Regions from separate parts of the Homo sapiens genome. Here region 2 is linked to region 1. The links come from fine-mapping of genetic effects on gene expression. A gene starts in region 1. The other region holds a variant in brackets. All regions are shown on one strand. Distances are from middle to middle.

The links. PIP is the estimated chance that this variant, and not a neighbour inherited with it, causes the effect.
Region 2: its variant is the best candidate, but not a certain one, in a credible set for the expression of NHEJ1 in lymphoblastoid cells (GTEx, PIP 0.77).

The regions. Positions count from the first base shown.
Region 1 is chr2:219,159,027-219,163,407 of GRCh38, forward strand. NHEJ1 (non-homologous end joining factor 1) reads right to left here and starts at 1,789. Exons shown (of 8, transcript NM_024782.3): 1 at 1,694-1,789. It overlaps SLC23A3 (solute carrier family 23 member 3), which reads right to left. Exons shown (of 12, transcript NM_001144889.2): 10 at 4,362-4,381; 11 at 3,273-3,368; 12 at 2,439-3,178. The coding sequence ends at 2,883. RefSeq lists a silencer at 1,454-1,573.
Region 2 is chr2:219,027,956-219,032,336 of GRCh38, forward strand. CFAP65 (cilia and flagella associated protein 65) reads right to left here. Exons shown (of 35, transcript NM_194302.4): 7 at 3,534-3,703; 8 at 3,151-3,350; 9 at 2,734-2,879; 10 at 2,031-2,253; 11 at 1,448-1,713; 12 at 246-446; 13 at 1-54. Among named protein-coding and RNA genes, the nearest start is that of CFAP65, 11 kb to the right of the region's middle. RefSeq lists an enhancer at 1,657-1,846. The variant C/T (reference allele first, on the strand shown) is at 1,895.

The DNA.
Region 1 (4,381 bases):
ACAAAAAAGAGCTAAGAACCTGTGTCCAGGAGCAACAGAAAAGACCTAAATTTCATTTCAACAAAAACCAGAATGACTAGGAAATCATGAATACAAGGCAGAGCACATCACAGAGGTAAAGACTGAATTAACTTCCACTTAACTCATCCTCCACATTCCCACTCCAGTGCACTGCCACCAATGACAACATGCCCAGCCTGGAACCCCTGCAAAACAACTTTTCTATCTCAGCAGCTAAAGTAGTAGGCTTAACCTAGTAGACAATCAGAACTACGGCTGCTTGACAGAGAATGTGATTGTTTTTCCTGTGGGGGAGAAAAAAATATGTCAATTTCCTTCATTATTCCAGTCTACAAATATAAAATGAACAGAAGTACCAGGAAGGAAAAATTTAGAATGTAAATAATGAAATTCCTTATTAAGTCTGATTAACACAGTCATTTCCCCTAGCTTTTGAAGTGTGCCCTTGTGACTTGTGACATAACTTTATATATATATGCATATATATATGCATATATATATATGCATATATATATGCATATATATATGCATATATATATGCATATATATATATGCATATATATACATATACGTGGTGATCTTTCTTTATGGCATCCTCAAAGCCTTGTGTTTGGAGGATGGTGTTTCCGTCACATTTCCCACATGCTGCTCTTATGGGGACAGAAGTGGTCATGGGATGATTAAGCTAGTCCTAGCCGGACAAGAGCTCCACAATGCCAAAGGTCACAAACGCGAATAAAGTCGCCACTTTCATCTCCCTTATAGGCACTCCCCAGTGTACTCTTAACAGTTGCCAAAATTGGGTTTACTATTCTAGCCCATTCCTTCGGAAAGCCCGGAAGCTCAGAACCCTCAAATTGATGGGTTTTGTTTGTCTGTTGGGTAAAGGGGGAGGAGTTTAAAATGTGGCCAGGAGTAACGGGCCCTATAAAAAGGCCTGACACATTGGGCACCAGACCCCGGCTGCCTGCTCCCACCACACGCGTCCCGTTCTGCGTCCGAAGCTTCTACACTTCATCCTTTTCTTTTTTCCTTCAAGGCTGCCTCTAACATTCACATTAACGAGATTCACGGGTTTATTTCTCTTGAGTGGAGGGGCGCTGAGCGGCATCCCGGCGGAGGGGTCCCTTGAGAACCTTTATCTGCACCGAGTCCGCTCCTCAGCAGTGACCCCTCTGGGCAGTTCCTCCGACGCCCTGCAGAGGGCAGTAGAGGCCCAGAGAGCATCCCGGCTGGGCCCCGCCCGGTCCCCCTGGGACAGCGCGAACCCTAGGTCCCACCACAACCATAGCCCCACCCCAGGAGCCGCCAGGCGTCCCGCTTCCACCCGCCCCAGCTATAACAGCCTTCGCTGTCCGCCTTCCCATTTCTACAGCACTGGCTGCACTGGGGCGCGGCTTCAAGGGGCAACAAAGCCGGCCACCAGCGGCTTCGTCGCACCAAACAGGCGACCAACGAGTACCTTCACTCGAGCCCTACCATCCACGCCGGGCAGCAGCCAGCGGACTGCGCACGCGCGGCCCCGCCCACCCCTCCCCCGGAGGCCTGCCCTGGACCCCGGCAGCGCGCGCTCCCTCCAGGGAGAAAAGGCCAGCGCCAGGGCCAACCCGCAGCGTCTGAGCAGCCCCTCGCTGGCTTGCTCCTGCCCGGACTCGAACGCGATTCCACCTACCGTCAGCGGCCGCGAGAGCGCCCACTCTCTTAGCCGCACGCACGCTTTCCTGCCCGCTCGCGCAAACCGAAAGGCCTAGAGTAAGAGGCCGCTTTCCCCCCACCGCAAGAGGAGGCAGGGTCTTGGGATACAGGGGCGGGGCCTATGCCTGGCGTGGGCGGGGCTTCTGGGCCTGGGACACTGATGAGAGGAGCGCCCCAGTGGCCAGGGTAAGTGGAGGAGAGGCCGGGCAGCCGGCTAGTAGAAGGGTAGTGGCGCGTCTTGGAGTCACGCTGGCCGAGTGGAAAGAATAGCGGGCGAGGCGCAGGAGAGGGGAGCCCAGGTTTGGATTTGTCAAACTTGAGTCACTTCTCTTCCCTCCCCTACCTATCCGGTCTCTTTTTAACAAAATAAGGGATTGAACTTCTGTAGATGATCTCTCAGGTCCTCCACCAGCACTAGAGTTGTTGAAGGAAGGAGTCTCCCAGGCATAAGTCCCATAGTCCGACCTCATCCTTTACCTCTCCTGCTTCATTTCTCCATCATCCCCGTACTTATACTCCCTCACTACTGAGAAATTTGAAACCCCTCACCTATCTTGGACTTTGTACAACCCATGGCTTTGCTCAAGCTGGACCCCGAACCTGAAAACTTCTCTGCATCCATTTTCCAAAACCAAAAATCCTCATTTGTCAAGGCCATCCTCATTGCTTCTTGCATAAAGCCTTTCCCACTGTCCCCAATCAGAATTCATTATCCCTTCCTCTTTGCTCCCACGGCATTATTTTAATCTTTATTACAGACTGCTTTCTGCTTTGCATTTTCGTTAGTAATTACAAAGGTCTTTTTAAACCGTAAATGCCTTGAGACGGCATGGACCCTGTCTTATCCCTGTAGTTCCAGGACCTTGCACATGGGAGATGCTCAGTAAGTATTAAAGTGAATGCTGGGGTTCAAGTGGCATTGATAGTACACAGGCAAAATCTCAATCATTCATGGTCCACTAAATCATGGCCTCTGCTCTGGAACAGTTAGGCCTAATTAAGACAAGGAAAGGCAACCCACCCTATTGGGAAATGGAACCTCTAGACAGTCCCATGTAATACACACACACATATCCTCTGCCTACAAGAAAGAACAGTTTGGGAGCTGACTCTCCAGCAGATGAGAGTTAGGGCTAAATTAACCAGGGCAGAAGTAGGCGTTCTGGTCATTTCTGGGACCTAAACCCTTCTCTGCTAGATTCAGGGCATGGCTCCCCTGAGCCAGGCAGCAAGTCTGCCATCTCTTCTGGCTCAGAGGAGCCTCCTTCCTCATCCCCAGGGTCTTCAGGCAGTGGGCAGAGGCAGTGGAGAGGCTGGGGGATGCAGGGACAGAGGTTTTGGATGGGGAAAGGAAGTCTGTACACTTGAGCAGCCTTCTCCCTGGGCTTCTGAGGCATTCGAGCCTCTTGGGCAGTGAAAGGAGATGGTAGCCCTTGACCTAGGCCTCGCTCAAGCTGTGTGCCTGCAAAAGAGAGGTTTGTCAGGCTATTGCCCATCCCAGGGAGGGATGGCTTCCTGGCCACTCCCCAGTCTGCTAGGGCCTAGCCTCAACTTACCAGGAATCGTGTTCTCTAGTAGGAAGCCTGAGAGTCCAGCCAGGAAGATGGGCTGTGTCAGCAGTGAGTGCAGTAATACATCCAAGGGGCTCCAGCCTATGAAGAGTTGGGGCCAGGCAGGAAGGGAACTCTGATCCTATATCCAAGCCCAGGAGTCTTACCCTCCCAGACCTAAACCTAAGCCTTGGACTAAGGACAGATCTTTCTGAATTGTCATTTCATCCCTCTCACCCTTTGTCTTTCTACTCTCCACTTTCCAAATCCAGGCCTTTCCCACAGGATTCCTGCTCAACACCCTGTGTTCTGATCATCCACACACCCTCCATATATGCTTTGACTATTCCAGGTTCCCTTTCTCTAGAAAGCGTAATATTTAAGTCCCAACCTCATCTCCCATTTTTTACCCTCTATGCTCTATCCTGGGTTTTTCAACCTCAGTCCTACTGACATCTTGGACCAGATAATTCTTTGTTGGGGGTGGTGGTGCAGGGGGGATGTCCTGTACAGTGTAGGATGTTTAGCAGCATCTTTCTATCCACTAAACCCTAGTAACAACTCCCTCTTCCTCCATTTGTAACAGCCAAAAATGTCTCCAGACATTGCCAAATGTCCCCATGGGGGCAAAATCACCCAGTTGAGAACTGGGTGAGACAAATTAAGCAATTTACTGCTCTCAGGACATATCCTAAGACTTCCCACTTCTGTGTCTTTGCATAAATGATGGTTCCTCCATCAGGAATGACCTTCTTCTCACCAAAGATGTTTAAAACTTACCATCCTTCAAGACCAGCTCTGTTACTGGATCACCTCAAACAGAAGCTATCTCTCTTGCCACTGAGCACTGTAGCTCTTTATCTGAACCTTTCCTGTTATTTTCCTACACATCTCATCTCTTGTACTACGCTGTAATAACGGAAGGCATCTTTGTATTCCAAATGGCTAGCATAGTGCTCAATAAATATCTGTTAAACAAATGGATGAAGTATTTACACCAAAGCCCAGAGAAGGCTGTGGGGCCAGGAGTCCGGGCAGCCTGAAGCCTCAACTTGCTTTCCTGCTACTGAGCAACGCCTCTTCCCTTCCACCTACCTGTGCTGAACAGGACTGGG
Region 2 (4,381 bases), 130 kb before region 1:
CTCGGTCATGGGGGGGATATAAGGGTACTGCGGGGCCGGCATGTCCTCCAGATCCTGCATGGGGAAAGACAGGTGGATAGGGCTCAACTGCCATTCCTCTTGCTGTTGCCCCTCCTGGGTACACTCCTGTCTAGAAAGGCTACACCAGTCGCCCTGACTACTAATGGTGCCCATGGGACCCTGGGGGCATGGGATTGCCCAAGAATCACTAGAGAAGGGATATGCAGCTGGGGAGGGCACTGTACCTGGATGGGAATCATGAGAGCCCCGTTCTGGTCCTGTGCCAGCTTCTTCTCCTTCAGCATGGCATCCAGGATGTCAGGGGGGTAGAGCGTCAGGCCCCGGGCCAGGTGTGTGCGGTACCAGGTGAGGTGCTGAGGCTTCAGGATGGCTGGCTTGGTGCTGTCCGAGTGGCAGGTCCCCATCAGGTCCAGGAACAGTGGGTCCTGTGACATTTGTCTGTGTGTGGTGGGGCATGGGAGGGGTGGTAGGGCAAGGGGGGTGCTGGGGGTTGAACTGAGGACAGAAGCTGGGCAGACAGGATAACAGAGGCAGTGGGGCAGAAGCTCCAGGTGGCCAGTGAGCAAGCACTCAGCAGTGGTCTGGCTCAGCCAGGGCACAGCAGGAGTCCAGGGAAGGTCAGGAGAGAGCACCCCGGTCCTTAGGACACTCAGCCATTACCCACCCTTCCTCTCTGCCATGGCCCCTGGGCATTCTCCCACCCACCCTACTGCCAGCCCAGAGGCCTGCCAAACTAGAATTCAGGCCCTCCCAAGGGAGGAGAATATGGGGGGCTGCCTCATCAGGCCTCCCTCTGGGCTTCTGTTCTTTCCTCCATTTCCAAGGCCTCCCCCAGCCCATACTAAACTGTCACAAGAATTAGAGAAAGGCACCCATTCCTCCAGGTACACAGACACAGCCCAAGCCTGGGCACCAGCTCAGGGAGGGATCATGGGTTACATTTCAGCCCCGTTTGCCATCTTGGCCAGGCACCTGCTGGTCAGGGCACAATGTGTCTGATCATGCCCAGGGACCTAGGGTTGGGGTCTAACTTGAAAGCTCTCTGCCCTATGCATGCTATGTGGGGTGGCTCCAGGGAAGAATTAGTCTGTGAAGTCATGGAAGGCAAAGAAAAGGCAAAGCCTGCAGGGCTCAGCGGGAGGGTGGGAGGCTGCGAGTCCAAGCCTCCCTCTCCCAGCCCATGAGCACAGCAGCAGCAAAGCGCCTGGCCTGGTAGCAGGGCAAGACTGGCACAGAGTGATCTGCCCTGTGCCCAGGCTGCACACTGGCTCCAAAAGCCAGGGCTGGGGCCCAGGAGTGGGAGACCACCAGGCAGACAGCCCTAGAAGTTCCAGAATACAGGGAAGTGCCCACCAAGCCTTGTCATCATCAGTGGGCCCCAGGGGAGCCCCTCCTCCCTCAGCCTCATGCCCTCCCCACGACTCACCTGGTGGTGGATGAGACAGGCCACACGCCGAAAGCAGATGATGGGGTGAGTGGGCTGGAAGGCACAGTGCAGGGTCATACGGGCCTTGCCCACCAGCGTCCCAAAGGCAGGCCTGATGGTAAAGACACTCTCCAAGCAGTCGATGGCAAACTGGAAGTGGGCCGTGCAGTCCGATTGGTTCTCAATCCACAGGGGCTGCTCGGAGCGCTCCCCAAGGTTGACCCAGCTGAAGTTGACACAGTAGTGCTGCAGGGACACAGCAGGGCCTGGACACAGGAGATGGGGTATCAGCTTCCCCAAGGATATCTTAGACAAAGTTCCACTGAAGGGAGGTGGTACTCTCAGGGCCAGGCTACAGGCCCAGAGCCCTGGCAGCCTGAGCAGAACTCCAGCATCACTGGATGCCAGTGGGACTGGGATCTCCAGGTAGTCACGGATGATTCCCCA[C/T]AGGGCCACCAGGGGGCAGCAGACACCCAGGCTGAGGCAAGGTGGCCCCGCCTCCTAGGAGCAGGGAAGGAGCTCTTCAGAATCCTCAGCAGGGGCTGCTCCTGTCCCCAGGGGAGGCCCCTGGGGTCACCGGTACCTCTACAGAAACCAACGACTTTAAGCAGGGTCTTGGAGGCACAGCCAGAAGGCATGATGGAGCAGTAGTCCACAGTTCTGGTGTCCAGAGTCTTGGGGTGGAAGAACACCGACACACATTTCTTCTCTCCCGGAAGCACGATGCCATGGGCCGTGGGGCATGAGAAGGCCTGGTCTTCGGCCAGTTCATCCGGGGAAATTTCAATCCTGAAGGGGGCATTTACCTGTGTGGCCAAGCAGAAGGACAAAGGGTCAGGTCACAGAGCAGAGCACTGTATGATGGGACAGTCTACGCATTGTACTGGCGTGCCTAGCCAAGGGGGTGGGGGCAGCTGGCATCCAGCCTGTGCCCCACTGGCCAGACTGCCTCCACCAGGAGGAGAGAAGGGACCGAGTCATGTGCCCTGCGCTGGGCCTGCCCAAAGGGGGCACCTTTTAATTCTCCCCAGGGTACCATCACAGCTAACTGTGGTCCTGGGGTCAGGACAGTCTTAGGGCTGCTCGTGGCTCTGGGGAGCCAGGGTATACCCCAGCCCAGCCCCCAGCTGAGGAGAAGGACACACCTGTTGACAGCTGACATGGGTTACATGAGGCTTGGGGCCAAAGGCATGGAGAGAAAGGGGGGGCATTCTGCAAGGCGGTGATTTTAGGAAATTCCAATCCTGGGGGCGTGAGTCCTGCCGCCCCTCCTGCCTGGTGCCTACCGCCGACGGGTTGTGTAGCCTGATCTGCCTCTCCGAGGTGCAGCCCACAGCAACAGAGCCAAAGTACAACAGCTTCTGGAAGCCCTCGGCATCCTGGTCCTCCGGGCACTTGTGCTTTATGCTCACCAGCAGCTGGGCGCACTTGGCTGGGGCAGAGATGGGGGAGTCTTGGGGGAACCCACCAGGGCCTCTGTGGCCCCAGCTGAACAGCCCCTCGAAGAAGGCAGGTGGCCCCAGGGAAAATTTAGCCTGTAACATCATGGAAGACAAAAGGCAAAGCCTTCTGGGCTTGGGGGAGGGCAGGAGGCCGGTGGAGGCGGGGGCCAGGCCAGATGGGAGGTGGGGGACACTGAGGCCTGGAGGACCCAGAAGGTGCAGGAGGGGCCAGTCTGGGGACGGTGGGAGGTTGGGCCTCACCCACAGCCTGCAGCTGGATGCTGCTCCTCTGCCGGCTGCCCGCCCCGTACCAGCACGTGGCCTGCACCTCGTAGATGACGGCTGTAAGGGGCTGAAAGGTCACCTTGATCTGAGAGGCCTGGCCTGGCTCCAGGAGCCCCGTGGCGGGCAGCATCTGGAATGGGCTGGAGAACTCCCAGGTGAAGAAGGTGGGCAGGTCCCTGGGGGTGGGGGGCAGGTCAGGGCACTGGGCTCCCGGCCCCTGCTCCTGCAGTAGCAAGTCAGGGATGCTGGGCAGAACCTCAGACTACCCTACCCCGACAAGGGTATGCCTGTCTCTCCTGCTTCCAGACACCCTCCTCACAGCTCTTGCTCTCCCCGCCGCACCTCAGCCTCTTCCTCACCCCACATTATCCAGGCAGAAAAAGGCCTCAGTCGTATCTCCCACAGCACACATGGGCAGCTGCAGGGATGGTGGGCGGCAGATCAGCCTGTGGCAGGGCAGGGTGGCCCGTAGGCCGACACAGAACATCCCCTCCGCTTTCTCAAACCACAGCTGGTCCATGTACTCCTTCTGCAGTGTGAGGCGGGGCAGGGGCAGTCACCCATCAGTGGCATTCAGGGACTGCACATCCCGCCCACCCTCAGCCACCCCCAACACAACCGCTGAGGGGAGGGCCAGGCCGTGGCACCCACGTCAGACTCTGAGGGGAGCTGGGCACCTATGTTGTCTTGGTCTCAAACATTAGAGCCTCTTTTGTGGAAAAAGTATTTTGAGGAAATGTGGGTGGGGAGTGGCAGGAAGAGGCCAAGGAATGTAGAAGGGGTTTCTTTTCTTTTCTTTTTTTTTTTTTTTTTTTGAGTCTCGCTCTGTCACCCAGGCTGGAGTGCAGTGGTGAGATCTCAGCTCACTGCAACAGCCGCCTCCCGGTTCAAGTGATTCTGCTGCCTCAGCCTCCCAAGTAGCTGGGACTACAGGCATGTGCCACCATGCCTGGTTAACTTTTGTATTTTTTAGTAGAGGTGGGGTTTCGCCATGTCGGCCAGGCTGGTCTCGAACTCCTGGCCTCAAGTGACCTGCCTGCCTCGGCCTCCCAAAGTGCTGAGATTCCAGAAGTCAGTCACCGTCCCCGGCCACGGAATGTAGGACTTTCTGATGGCCAATATAATATCGCAGCCTTTACCCCCAGCATCTCCTGGGGAACGCCCTCTGTCTAATGAGATGAGGGGCTAAGCCCTTGACGGGGCCTCC